Regions from separate parts of the Homo sapiens genome. Here region 2 is linked to region 1. Evidence: fine-mapped expression QTL. Tissue or cell type: whole blood. Region 1 holds a variant in brackets; the other region holds the start of a gene. All regions are shown on one strand. Distances are between the middles of the regions. Region 1 overlaps MAML3 (mastermind like transcriptional coactivator 3). Region 2 holds the start of MAML3 (mastermind like transcriptional coactivator 3).

The links.
Region 2: MAML3 starts here. The variant in region 1 is fine-mapped to the expression of MAML3 in whole blood (INTERVAL, PIP 0.97).

The regions. Positions count from the first base shown.
Region 1 is chr4:140,097,749-140,102,054 of GRCh38, forward strand. All of the region lies in intron 1 of MAML3 (mastermind like transcriptional coactivator 3), which reads right to left. Among named protein-coding and RNA genes, the nearest start is that of MAML3-AS1, 28 kb to the right of the region's middle. The variant C/T (reference allele first, on the strand shown) is at 2,490.
Region 2 is chr4:140,152,273-140,156,754 of GRCh38, forward strand. It overlaps MAML3 (mastermind like transcriptional coactivator 3), which reads right to left and starts at 1,912. Exons shown (of 5, transcript NM_018717.5): 1 at 588-1,912. The coding sequence starts at 1,055.

The DNA of each region.
Region 1 (4,306 bases):
ACAACCTCATCTCCAAGCTCACGTTCCTTCGTGGTGACAAGAGGGAAGTGAAGACTTTTAACCAGATGGGAAAAGTTACCACAATATTTCCAATACTGTGTTTCCACCAAATATTTCCAAACTGGCATAGGATAGAGGGCATGAACCAGCTATCACTGACTGGCTTGGCATTTTTGTCAACCTGCCTGTATTAAGAAACCTGTCTTGAAAAGAGCATTTTTATTAAAAGCTAAAAGCCTTCAAGTCCTCCACGTTTTTCTCCACTACGAAGTATTAGAATAGAGAGAATAAGCTATCGTTCATTTATTCAACATTTACTGAACACCTATTAATTATGTGCTCGGTCCAGGGAGTTCTTAAGAGTTCTCACATTTTCAAAAACTGGGAGAACTTCTATTTTGCATATGTGAAGTGTGTTTATTTATACCCAAACAATATTGTGATAAAGAACATTTGTAGTTCACTCAAAATATTCGCAGTATGCTCAAAAGGGCAAAGGTTTTTTGAATCCGAGCTCTATTACATACAATGCGCACGTCCTTGGGCAAATTATTTCTCTAGACCTTGTTTTCTTCATCTGTGTAATGGGGAACTAGGTTTCATCATTTTTTATGAAGATTAAGTGAAATATCAGCTGGCAAGCACTTAACAGAAGCTGGCACATGGCATTCAAGCAATCATGCATTTAGTAAATATTTATTGAGCACCTCGTATACGCCAGGCTGTGTTGTAAACACAGAGCCTCACCAACCAAAGGGAGAAGCCAGATTCCCCCTTTCTTATCCTTCCCGTATCATCACCAGGACTTCTCAGGGGCTCTGAAAGCCTGTGAAAATGAAACCAACTGGACGCAGTACCAATGCCAAACACCATTATTTTCAATATCTCATGGTGCTCTGCACCAAGGATTGAATTTTCAAGTGAGATTCACGCTGCCCATGAGTCCTGGGCACAAAGGCCATGTGGCTACTGGTCTGCATCGGGCTATTCACCTGGGGACCCAAAAGCAGAGCCCTGGAGCCACCCACACCCTGGCCTCCAGGGTTTAGACAGAAATAGAACTTAAGAGACATAGGTTGCTGTCTCTCTTGCCTTTTTGCTCTTAAAATGAGAAAGGTGACTTATTTTGAGGTGGGGGAGGGATACCCTCTATTCAGAGGAAGTTCCCACATGAACTGCTACATTGTTTCTCTGACTCATTTTTACTTTTCCTCCCCATTGCTTCCCAGCCCTCCCTTGATGTCTCGGTCTGTTCCAGATGTGGTACAATAGGCTCTTTGTTTACAAGATTGTAATGTGCAATAAAATCAGTTATGAGGCCAAGAATAATTTATGCACAAAAAAATAAGGACAGTAAAATTGACATGAATTGTATGTTTTACAGTACTTTTTGATCTGTTACATTCCTGTTGATAGAATTGATAGACACTAGCTAAAAACTTTTAAGTGTTCATAAAACTCTGTTCACATTGGAAGTATATCACACACACACACACACACACACACACACACGTGCACACAAACAACTCAGGAGCAAAACTTTTTTAAAAGCCTTAAGCAAAATACTGAGTTCTTAATTTTGTTACTGACACAAGCATCCACCCAGTCTCACAAGTAAGAAATCTGTAGCTATTTTCTTTTTTTTCTTTCTTTCTGTCTTTGTTTTTAGAGACAGGGTCTCACTCTGCCACCCAGACTGGAATACAGTGGCACCATCATAGCTCACTGCAGTCTCGAACTCCTGGGTTCCAGCAATCCTCCCGCCTGGAGTTATTTTCAGTGGGTAAGGCAAGGTTTCATGGGAAATCATAGACAGTTTGTAGCCAAACATGCTTGGCTCTGAATCTCAATCCTATTCACTTCTAGCTAGGAGGTTTTTAAACATCTCAAAGCCTCAGTTACTGCATATGAAAAATGGATTTTGGTGAAAATTAAATTAGATAAAGGATGAGCAGAATGTCTGAACACATGTTTGGCAATCAGAAAGTTATTTCTCCAACCTCCCTTCCCCAACACACCTCTCAAAACCTTTCTTTTCCATTCTATCACTCAGTTTCATCTCTCCTGGACTACTGCTCTCCGACAGGGTTTTCAGCCTTTTGTCTACTACTCCTTCAAACCATCCCAAACCTGCTATTACAAACAACATTCAAAAATCAGAAATTTGATCATGGCACTCCCTGTCACAAATCCTCCTATGGTGATAACATTCAGAACAAATCTGCATTCAGAGAAAGTCCACGTGTCCCCAACCCATCTGTTCAGCCTCAACTCCCCCATGACCACCCCACCCCTGCCCCTTGAACGACCGCAGCCCCCACGTTCCAGGCACCCAGTCATTGTGAGTGGAGCATGCCATCTGCTCTGGTGCATGGACTCTCACTGCCACTCCTCCGGGATGCCAGCCCCACTCCACCCCCTCCCATCTGTAGAGATCACTGTCTCCTTCAAGGCTTAGCCCCAGTGCCACTTCCTCTCTGCAACGTTCC[C/T]GGATTTCCTCTGCTGACTCAAGCCTCCACTCATGTGTCTATGCCTTTCTCAAGTTTATTATTTAAACTTTTGTTCTCCAGTTATCCATATCTATGAGGGTCCACCCCCCTAGACTCAGTTCCTCCATGACAGAGACCAAATTGTATTCATTTTTACAAACAGTCCTCAAGTTTTATCCTTCCTTGCAAGAAGAAAATAAAACCAAACAGATAATTTATTGAACTGAAAGGACAGAATGAGGATAGAAGTAACTAAACAATGCCCCTGTGAATAGAGGCATTTCTTAGTGGAAAAACATATATATGTGTGTGTATGTTTGTATAATGTAAAAACGGAGCAAGCCATTCCCAAAGTGCTTCAAATTCTGGCAAAACTAAGATGCACTTAAAATGAAGTCTTAGGTGTATTAAAAAAAAAAAAGATTTCAAAAACCTCAGCAAACCACAGAGGTATACACCATATGTGGTAGATTAAAAATGACCACAAATTCTTTGATCCTTCTTCCATGGACAGATGTGTCTATTCCACAACCTGCGTCCACCACTTTTAAAGGTGAGTTGCCTATAACTGCTTGGACCAATCAAGTATGGGAGTGATTTTGAATATGGGAGTGATATTATGCCATTTCCAAACCTAGTGCTTAATATGACTAACAGTTTTGGCCTTGGTCTCTTGGAACCCTGGGCTTCCCTGTAAGAAATATGAGTACCCTAATGGAGAAACCACATGGAATGGCTCCAAGGCTCCATGGAGAGGCAGACAGGCCCAGTGGGGAGCTCAGTCTTCCAGGCATCCTTGCCAAGGTGCCAGGAAGGTGAGTGAAGCCATATTGGATCCTCCAGATCAGAGCAGCCATTGACTGACTAACAGCAAGGGACCAGAGTCGACGCTACATGGAATAGAAGAATCACTCAGCTGAGCCCTGCTTGAACAAAATCACAGATATAATCAAATAATGGTTGTTTAAGCCGTCAAGTTTTGGTGTGGTTTGCTAGTTAGCAATAGGTAACAGGAACACAATTTTAATCCCTTTTGGCCCAGCGTCCTACCCTACCTAATAGAACACTTTTCCTCTAAAGGGAGGAAAGTGGCCTTGTGTAGAATAGAGCTCCCAAGTCACTGATGGTCTAGTTGAAGGGATGAGAAACTCACCAGGCTCTTGGACAGTTGCAGTTGTAATGCACTTGTGTAATGTATAATACACATTTCTTTCAGATAAGTTCAGTTTACCCACAGCTGTTCTATCTGTCAACAGATATTGGGGCAAATGTGGTTAATAACTTCAGGAACAATTTGGTAGAATTCTACTCAGGAAGCCAGGAGACCCTCCATTTCAGTCTTTTACCATCCACATCTCTTGTGTATATGAGGAAGAAATGTTTGTGTCTTCATTTGCCTAGCTATCACATGAAGAGAAGCATACGTGATACCTCTTAGATCAGTGTAAATTAGAAATGAAATCAGGTTATGGACTGAAAACACCTTCAGTTCCTTGGCCAAAAAAAGGCTAGGTAAACTCAAGGTACTATCATCATTTTGCAAATATGTTATTCCACTATATAAAATAGCCTAAATTAGTAAATGCAATTCCACGTGCTGGGTCAGCTGAGCATTTTTTTTTTTTTTTTACATTTGCCAGATTCCCCTTGTTTTGTCTTTCTAGCCAATAGAACAACACTAAAATATATGGAGAATTTAACTAACTTTTGAAAAAGAGATAACACAAGTTAGAACCAGAAGAAGTCATCTGTGCCATAAGTTTGTGTCTTCTAAGAGCCATCAGCCAGGCAAAATGAAGTGGGAAACTTGAAACTTA
Region 2 (4,482 bases), 55 kb after region 1:
AGACTTTCTCAGCCCAAAGGGGGTGAGCTGGGGAGAGGAGGCGAGAGGCTCTCCTTCCCCGCTTCCCCCCTAGGGGTTGAGGGCCTGGTGCCCGCCCAGAACCTGCGACAGCATCAATATTTCCACGCACCCGGCGGATGTGCTGAGAGGGGTGGGCGTAGGGGGACGGGTCTGGGGAGGCGAGGCGGCGCGGCTAGAGGTGGGGTGGGGAGCGGCGAAGAGGAGGAGCAAGGTTTCAACTCAGGGGTTCACTCTTTCAAATCGGTATCTTAAGAAAGGGAAGGGGGGAAACTTTTCCAGCACCTCACTCCGACGCTCCTCTAGGCTCCCTCCGCCCCTCGCAGTCGTGACTGGCTTCTCCCCTCTCGCCCCCTCCTCCCCAAATCTGACAACCCTGACAGATTAACAGGTAGCGACGACGGCAGCTTTTTCCCTAAGAAAAGTTGACGTTAACCCTTAGGCTTCAGCCCACCTCACCCACCGTGCAAATCAGACCCTTGTACCCCCATGTAAGAAGCTCCACGCGCCCCCCACCACCACCACCACCCCCAACGCGCGCCGCAAGCCCGCTGCCCGTGCGCCCTCACCATGATCAGCGTGTGGTTCCTCTGCTCCGCCGAGGCAGCCTCCGCATCTTGCTGGGGTTTGCTCGGGTGCTGCTGTTTGCCGGTGCCGGCGCCCGATTTCTTGGCCCTCTGCTCCAGGGTCCGCTGGTAGAGGCTCACGGTGTCCCGGCGCTCCAGCTCCAGCTGCTCCACCTGAGCCTGCTGGTACCTGTTCTCGCAGTTGACGTGGTGCCGACGGCAGCCCTCGATGCGCTGGCGGAGCCGCTCCACCACGGTGCTGTGCTTGGGAACGGCCGCCGAACCGCCGCCGGGGCCCCCGGAGCCGCCGCATCCACCGGCTGCCGGGTGATTGCTACTCGGAGCAGCGGGAGTACTATTGGGAGTATTATTCACACCGATCCCGGCCCCGCCGAGGCTGCTGTTCAGGCTACTGTTGATGCAAATACTACTGCCATTCGCGGCAGCAGCGGGGGCTGCGAAATCCCCCATCCTGCTCCCCGGGCACACTATTTTGGAAGAACTTTTTTTATCCACCCCCCTATCAGCCTCCTCCTTGGGTCCAAGGATTAAAATAGTTTAAGTGGAACGCGGGGGAGACGCAAGCACATGGATGGAAACGGCGATCCCGACGGGGCGAAAAAAACGGGGGGGGAGATTTTGGGGTGGTTTTTGTTTCCTTTTTTTAAACTGTAAAAGCTCAAGGGGAAGAAAAGGGGGGAACGTTATCGGAATACCATCAGACACCTATCAACAAAAAGAATCACAACAAACTGAGCCAGCAGCAAATCGGGTTGCAACTCAAGGGGAGATCCGCTCCTTGCTTGCCTTCTTTTTATAATCCATTATTTTCTAATAAATTCCAGGAGATTTCCGGTGGTTGGCAAGCATTTTCTCCCTACATACCGAAAAACACACCCCATGTACACACACAAGCATATGCCTCCAGTGCGGACACGCGCGACACACACTCACTCCACACCGCATCGGAAAACGGCAAGCTTGCTTATTGCATTTTCCTTCCACAAAAAAGTTTTGGTGTTTATGCCGCCCCGTGTTCTCAAAGTACTTTGGCTGCTCAGTTGCATTTCACAGGAACCTAGATATCGAATCCTCGGGCTGGGGGAAGTAAACACATGGACAGTCCGAGGCGACTGCAAAAGTAGATCGGTGAAGTCCTTTGCAAAACGCCGCGCAGAGAGCAGCACCTAACGCTCGGCTGGGCTGCCGCTGCCGCCGCTGCTCCTGCCACCATCACAATGATCAACTGCTCGCCGCCGCCGCCGCCGCCGCCTCCTCCTCCTCCTCTCGCTCCTCCACCTCCTCCTCCTCCTCCATGCCAGCGGAGTGATATCAGGACGCGCGAGCTCAGTAAACACGGCAGCGGCGGCGGCTGGAGGCCGTGAGACAGGCCCGCGGACACGGCGCAAAACCCGGCCCGGACTCTCACCCGGCAGGAGCGGGCGCGGCACGCACCAGCACCCGGCTCCCGTCTCCGTCGCCTCGGCGCCCGGCGCCCCTCCTACGCCCCCAACCACACTACCGCCCCGCCGAGAAGCCCAGAGCCGTCGGCGACGGAGAGAAGAAAGATTCTGGGGGGATCTCAGAAATAAATCAACTTTTGACCTGTGTGTGTGCGTGAGAGCGTGTGTGAGTGTGTGTGTCTGTGTATGCGCGCGCGCGTGCGCGGGGACGCGCCTGGTAGGGTTTCCTTATTCCAAGGAAAGTATCAAGCGATCCCAAGTTGTTGTTATACATTTATGCATTATATTGCAGAACTGTGCATGACCAGGCAGAAACATTGAAGCTTTACAGCAGTTGTCTGTCATCCCTATCCATGTGGAAAGAAAAAGGCAAATGAGTGACTTGTTTTTAAAACCCAGGTAATAAGTCTGCGCTAGTAACAGCGCTACTTACGGACACTTGTTCCAAGTCTAGGCCAGACTGAACACACAAATACCAAATTCTAAATAAATAGAAATAGGCATCAAAAATGTGTAATATTTAACTCACTGTACATAATGATTGTTGTTACTAAGTCAATTATTGTTTTACTTACCCTTGGAAAAAAATAAAGCAAGCAGGGACTTGGAGGTGAGACTAACAGTACATTTAAACAGACTGTTTTGAACACTAGGTGCTAATGACAGCAGTAATTAAGGTCCTTCGTAAATCAAGTGGAAAGATTGCAGATTTCATAGACTAGAACTATAGAAAAAACACAGCATTTCACAGTTTGTCATGACCAAAACAAAAACAAGCAAAAATAACAGGCCTACTTTATTGCTGGATATATTTCTTTCCATTTCAATGAATTCACAATAAGTACAATTAAAATGGACTAGCAACTGCAGAAATCAATCTAAACTTTCCATTTTATTAAAGCACATTATCTTTCCCGATATTATCTAAAAACAAAAATAACAACTAAGGATCAAATATTCTTGAATATGGACTTAAACCATTGCATATACATATTTTTAAAAATTAAGATGGAGAAATTATTATTTCTCTAATAATCAGTAAACTATAAATCTTGATTGTGAGATGTTAATTATAAGTCATTTTGTATTATTTCAATAAATCTTAAGAATTAGTTTTTAGGGTAAAAATACACCCCAGTTTTCTAAAATAGCCAGGAATAAAAGAACTTTGGATCTTATGCATTAGTCATGAGATCTGATTTAAACCATCTTCATTTCTTGGCATTGCAGATTAGCACAGGATGCTATTTCTAACCTCATAATGTCAGCGATAAGAAGCTATATTTTTCTTCAATTAATCAGTTCTATATAGTGAACGATATTTTTAATATTCACTGGATATATGGCAAAATGGGCAGCAAAATATTTAATACGGTGTGAGGCTACTTCTAAGCAGTAAAACCAACTTAAGAGAGTGTATATTTCATTGAAGTTGCCACACTTTTTCTGAAGGCTATTTAGTTAATATACAAATTTCTGTATCAAACTGCCCTTCTTCAAGTCTCAGTCAGAAAATTTAACTGGACTACGTCTGTAGCAAAAGAGCCCGTTCAGATTCTGAAAATATGTAGAGAATTTTAAGAAATTAGAAAAAGAGGTAGCAAAGTGGCCTTTATCTTTTTCACATATTCACTAAATAATATCTCTATTAACTCAGGAAACACATGGCTTCGCCACAGAGGGGAAGCTATGACTCTGCATTCGCTTTGCTCTCTCTTCACCGTAGTTTAATTCTTTTTTTTTTTTTTTTTTTTGAGACAGAGTCTTGCTCTGTTGCCTAGGCTGGAGTGCAGTGGCGCCATCTTGGCTCACTGCAACCTCTGCCTCCCGGGTTCCAGTGATTCTCCTGGCTGAGCCTCCTGGGTAGCTGGGATTACAGGTGCACGCCACCACACCTGGCTAATTTTTGTATTTTTAGTAGAGACGGGGTTTCACCATGTTGGCCAGGCTGGTCTGAAACTACTGACCTCAGATGATCCACCTGCCTTGGCCTCCCAAAGTGCTGGGATTACAGGTGTGAGCCACTGCGCCTGGCCACACTGTAGTTTAATTGTTATCCCTCCTCCTTCACTTGCCTCCATCACCCACAAAAGACTGCAGTTTGATTTACAGAGGCAACAAATTTGAGGGTCTTAAGCACTGGGTCTTTAGTTTTTGAGACTTGGGTTCTCATTTTAGCTTTTTCCTGTGACTCAGAATTTAATTATTCATTGAGAGTTTCTCATTCTGGGGAAAAAATGACAACAATAGCAGCACCATGTATTCCCTTCAAGCTGTTTACCTCTCCTACCATGAAGGGAAACCAAAAAGACACAAGAATTTGCATCCTTCCCTTTGGGGAACCAGCAGGTGGGACAGCACACTTTGTGGTTTTACCACAGAGTTCCCCAATGACAAATGAAGCTCTTCTTGCACAACCACAGTATACTTTGCTG